2 separate regions of the Homo sapiens genome follow, and region 2 is linked to region 1. The links come from fine-mapping of genetic effects on gene expression. A gene starts in region 1. The other region holds a variant in brackets. All regions are shown on one strand. Distances are from middle to middle.

Region 1 (2,915 bases):
TCCATTTTTTTCTACTGTAAACAATGCTGCAGTTGTATCTTGGCACATAAATCTTTATAAATTAATTGTTTTATTTCTGTAGGATAGATTCCTAGACATAGGATTACTTTAGTGACATATATATATAATAAGCAATGTGAAATGCATACAGAGTATACTGAATCACATTTCAGAGCTCTAATTTCTCTGCCTCCTAAAGTTGGACTGAAGTTTATGTATCTTTTGACTTGTTTACTTTTAAGATTCTTGTGACCAATTTGCATTAAATAGCTGGGGTTTTTTGTTTGTTTCTTTGTTTGTTTTTTGAGACGGATCCTCGTTCTGTTGCCCAGGCTGGAGTGCAATGGCAAGATCTCGGCTCACTGCAATCTCCACCTCCCAGATTCAAGGATTCTCCTGCCTCAGCCTCCTGAGTAGTTGGGATTACGGGCCCCCACCACCACATCCAGCTAATTTTTGTATTTTTAGTAGAGACAGGGTTTCGCCATGTTGGTCAGGCTGGTCTCGAACTCCTGATCTCAGGTGATCCGCCCGCCTCAGCCATCCAAAGTGCTGGAATAACAGGCGTGAGCCACTGCCCCCGGCCTAAACAGCTATTTCTTAAATGCTTTTCAATGTGCAATCAATACACGGAAGAAATGCAAATATAAATAAAAATCTGGCATCTGGAAATATCCTCCCCGCGCTGAAAAATCTGGCTAGCACCAACGACGCAAATTCTTAATAAAATCCTTACTTTTTTAAGTAAAACTTTTTTTCTTTTTTCTTATTTCTTAAGTAAACATTTTAAATTGAAATTTTTTTTCTGTACAGAGAAAGTTGAAACATCCATTCCTATGTTTGGGATGAGAAAAGATAAATTATTTATGTTATTGGAAAACAGAAGATTACAGACTGTCAATAAACTTTTACTTTTAAATGAATAAATAATACATGACAATTCTTTTCACATGAGAGAACGTCTGCTTCTATTTCCTCCTAAAATACTGTGGCGGCTGGGCATGTCAACAGCGCCGCTGGTGTAGTGGTATCATGCAAGATTCCCATTCTTGCGACCCGGGTTCGATTCCCGGGCGGCGCATAGGCGTTTTGCTTCTCGCTCGCTAAAAACCAGATAGCTTGAAGAGTCTTTATATATCTTTCCAAAAGAGGAAAGATTTAGGCTTTTTACTGTCCCTGAAGGTTTCCACTCCCTCATAATTCGCGGTCGAAACACTCGAATCCGCAGCCAGAAGACAAAAAAGTTCACGCAAATCGTGAAGTAGTTAATACTTGCGCCTGCGCAGTCTGAGGCGTCCCTCGCGTCGGGTGGAAGAGCGGCTGCGCAACAAGTGAACCTATGGATTAAGGTGTAGCCGGGCGGCCCGGAGGTTGAGAGTGCAAGATTATTCTGCGCCTGCGCGGCCCGGGTAACTTTGCTGGCTGCTCCTAGGCTCCCGGCTCGCCGCCATCTTGTATTGGGGTTTCATTGTTCCCGCTGGGCCGGGCGGTTTAGTGTAATTGCCGCCGGAGGAGGAGGCGGAGTAACCTCTGGTCAGCCGAGAAACCCCACTATCCTGTAGCCATAACCGCTTAAACGATTTGGGAGGTAGTGAAGGGCAGGGAGCTGGACCTGGAGGCGCCGCCGCGACAGCAGCAGCCATGGAGGACGAGATGCCCAAGACTCTGTGAGTCTGGGGCAGCGATGAGGGAGGCGGGATGGTGGTCGTCCCGGAGGGAAGGCCTCGGCCCTGCGCCGCTCCCAGCCTATTGTTCTCCGTGGACACCGCGATATCGTGGTTTTTGTTTCCTTAGCATGCACCTGGATGCTTACAACCAAGACCCAATCTGTGAGGACGAGGTGAAGGGAGACGGGGCTCAACCCTCTCAATTAATCCCTTCACTTTAGCAACACCATTGCATGACCTTTGCTCTCGCCACGGGCCCTCTGTGGTCTTAGACCTGGAGAAAAGACTTTAATTCAGACCTCTTTTTAGAACTCGTCGAACCTTCCTTTTGTCCTATGCTTTCTTTCCTTTTCCCGCTTCTCCCCCTTTTTGATTAACCTCTTCTTATCTTTACAGCCGTCTCCCTTTAATTTTACTTTTGATTTCCTACTGAAATTCTTCCTTTCATTTTCTTCTCGGTGATAAGATTTTTTTTCCTCCTCGAGGGTGCTTGTACTCATTTTCAGTGCAGTAAACTTTATTCTTGCAGTTGCCAATTGGAAAAAAGCCAAGCATTTTTCTTTAACCTCTGGCTTTCCTTCTGTAGCACCCACCGACCAAAAAGCCTAACCAGACACCCCAAGGATTTGGAAATCTCACCCAGAAGGAATATATCAATTGAGGGGAAATGGATTTAATATTATTTTTATAGTCGTTTACTACTGTTGTGATTGACATGGTGTTGAACGAGCGGGCTGTAAATGCCCTAACATATTTACAGAGAATTTTTAGAGATAGCGTTAAATTACCGGAGCGTGGATATTTTCTTTGTCGTGTGGCTTCCCCAACTGCGTTCTTTGTTTTTCGAGGTATTATCGGATGAGTTGATCCTGCCTTTGTTGGCATTTCTCGGAAGAAGAAAAGCTCAATGAGTTCTTGACATAGCTTTTTGTTTTTCTTGGATGACATAGCTTTTTGTTTATATTCTTGGAATACTGGCAGTTTGAGAGCTCCATGCATTAAAAATGCAATTTTAGGTTTCTCTTTGCAGCTCTCTAATAAAGTTGCTCTGAAGTACGATGTAATTGTTTTTTTACCTCCAAAATTTTTCCACTTTTAAGTTGCTATTTCTTGTCTATATTGGAAATGTGGTTACACTTGTTTTCTTAATAGATTGTCAGTTAATCTGTTAGTAACCTTGAAATTTCTTTTCTCTATTCCTGAGGCTCAGAAAGTATCTTTTCAGTAGGACGTAGCAATTAGTGCATG
Region 2 (2,915 bases), 230 kb after region 1:
TACAGTGGATCTCTTGAACTTGTTCCTCCTGTCTAACAAATTTTGTGTCCTTTGACCAACATCCTTCCAATCTCCCCACCCGCCACCCTCTGGTAACCACCATTTTACTCTCTATTTCTATGAGTTCAACTATTTTATACTCCATATATAAGTGAGGTCATGTGGTACTTGTCTTTCTGTACCTGGCTTATTTCACTTGACATAGTATCCTCCAGGTTCACTCATGTTGTCACAAACGACAGGATTTCCTTCCTTTTAAAGGATGAATGGTACTCCATTGTGTATATGTACCACATTTTCTTTATCCATTCATCTGCTGATGGACACTTACATTGATTTTATATCTTGGCTATTGTGAATAATGCTGTAATGAATATGGGAGTGTGAATATCTCTTCAACATACTGATTTCATTTCCCTTAGATATATGCCCAGTAGTGGTATTGCTGGATCATATGGTAGTTCTACTTTTAAATTTTTGAGGAACCACCATAGTGTTTTCCTTAATGGCTGTACTAATTCACATTTGCGTCAGTAATGTGCAAAGGTTTCCTTTTCTCAACATCCTTGCCAATGCTTGTCATCTTTCCTCTTTTTTGCAATAGCCATTCTAACAAGAGTGAGGTGATATGTCATTGTTTTGAATTGCATTTCTCTGGTGATTAGTGCAGTTCAGCACCTTTTCAGATTCCTGTTGGCCATTTGTATGTCGTATTTTGGGAAATGTCTGTTCAAGTCCTTTGATCATTTTAAAACTCTGGTTATTTGTTTTCTTCCTACTGAGTTGTTTGAGTTTCTTATCTACACTTTAGATCATAACAACCCCTTCTCAGATACATGGTTTGCAAATGTATTCTCTCACTCTGTAAGTTCTCTCTTCACTGTATTGTTTCCTTTACTGTGTGGAAGGGTTTCAGTTTGATGTAATCCTATTTTGCTTTTGTTGCCTGAGCTTTTGGAGTCATATCCAAAATTTTTGCCCAGACCAATGTCATGAAGCTTTTTCCCTATGCTTTCTTCTAGTAGTGTTACAGTTTCAGGTCTTATGTTTGTCTTTAATCCACTTTTATTTGATTTTTGTATATGGTGTGAAATGAACATCTAATTTCATTCTTCTGTATTTGAATATCCAGTTTTTCCAGCACCATTTATTGAGTAGGCTGTCCTTTCCCCAGTGTGTGTTCTTGGGACCTTTGTTGAAAATCAGTTGACTGTAAATACATAGATTTAT[T/G]TCTGGGTTCTTTATTTTGTTCCTTTAGTCTATGTGTCTGTTTTTTGGTGGTACCATGCTGTTTTGGTTACTACAGCTTTGTAGTATATTTTGGAGACAGACAGTATGATACCTCTAGCCTTGTTCTTTTTGCTGCAGATTGCTTTGGCTATTTGGGGTCTTTTGTGGTTCCATAGGAATTTCAGAGTTGTTTTTTCAATTTTTGTGAAGAATTTTATTAGTATTTTGATAGAGATTGCTTTGAATCTGTAGGTCATTTTGGGTAGTATGAGCATTTTAATATTAATTCTTCCAAACCGTGGACACAGCATATCTTTCCATGTTTTGTGTGTGTCCTCTTCAGTTTCTTTCGTCAGTGTTTCAACAGTGTTTTCCATGTACAGATCTTTCATTTCCTTGATTAAATTTATTCCTAAGTATTTTTTATTCATTTATTTTATTTTATTTTATTTTATTTTATTTATTTATTTATTTTTGAGGTGGAGTCTCACTCTGTAGCCCAAGCTGGAGTGGCGTGATCTCGACTCACTGCAACCTCCGCCTCCTGGGATCAAGTGATTCTCGTGCCTCAGCCTCCTGAGTAGCCGGGACTACAGGTACGCACTATGACACCTGGCTAATTTTTTGTATTTTAGTAGAGATGGGGTTTCACCATGTTGCCCAGTGTGGTCTCAAATTCCTGAGCTCAGGCGATCCTCCCACCTTGGCCTCCCAAAGTGCTGGGATTGCAGGTGCGAGCCACTGCGCCCAGCCTATTCCGAAGTATTTTTAAATAGCTATTGTAAATGAGATTGTTTTCTTCATTTTTTTGATAGTTCGTTGTTATTGTATATAAACACTACTGAATTTTGCATGTTGATTTTGTTTCTTTTTTTTAAAAAAATACTAACAGACAAGCAAATGCATGTTGATTTTGTATCCTGCAACTTTACTGAATATGTTTATCAGTTCTAACAGTTTTTTGGTGAGTCTTTACTATTGTCTATCTAAAGATCATGTCATCAACAGACAGACAATTTAACTTTTTCCTTTGCGATTTGGACAAATTTTATTTCTTTCTCTTGACTAATTGTTCTGGCTAGGATTTCCAATACTGTTTTCAATAGAAGTGTCTGAAATAAGCATTCTTGTCTTATTACTAATCTTACGAAAAAAACTTTCAATTTTCACTATTCAATATGATGTTAGCTGTGGGCTTATCGTACATGACCCTTACTGTGTTGAGGTCCATTCCTTCTGTGCCTAATTTATTGAGAGTTTTTAATCATGAAAGGATGTTTAATTTTGTTGAATACCTTTCTCCATCAATTGAGATGATCAGGTTGGGCGTGGTGGCTCACGCCTGTAATCCCAGCACTTTGGGAGGCTGAGGTGGGCAGATCACAAGATCAGGAGATGGAGACCATCCTGGCTAACATGGTGAAACCCTGTCTCTACTAAAAATACAAAAAAATTAGCCAGGCATGGTGGTGGGCACCTGTAGTCCCAGCTACTTGGGAGGCTGAGGCAGGAGAATGGCATGAACCCGGGAGGCGGAGCTTGCAGTGATCTGAGATCACGCCACTGCACTGCAGCCTGGGTGACAGAGCCAGACTCCGTGTAAAAAAAAAATTGAGATGATCATAGGGCTTTTGTCCTTCCTCCTGTTAATGTGGTGTATCATATTTATTGATTTGTATATGTTG

The links. PIP is the estimated chance that this variant, and not a neighbour inherited with it, causes the effect.
Region 2: its variant is the best candidate, but not a certain one, in a credible set for the expression of TIA1 in whole blood (TOPMed, PIP 0.71).

The regions. Positions count from the first base shown.
Region 1 is chr2:70,247,157-70,250,071 of GRCh38, reverse strand. It overlaps TIA1 (TIA1 cytotoxic granule associated RNA binding protein), which reads left to right and starts at 1,444. Exons shown (of 13, transcript NM_022173.4): 1 at 1,444-1,667. The coding sequence starts at 1,642. It overlaps TRG-CCC2-1 (tRNA-Gly (anticodon CCC) 2-1), which reads left to right and starts at 1,011; the gene lies at 1,011-1,081. RefSeq lists enhancers at 1,048-1,862, 1,863-2,678.
Region 2 is chr2:70,016,926-70,019,840 of GRCh38, reverse strand. The region is part of intron 7 of PCBP1-AS1 (PCBP1 antisense RNA 1); the gene reads left to right. It also overlaps a transcript of ASPRV1 not described here. Among named protein-coding and RNA genes, the nearest start is that of ASPRV1, 57 kb to the right of the region's middle. The variant T/G (reference allele first, on the strand shown) is at 1,231.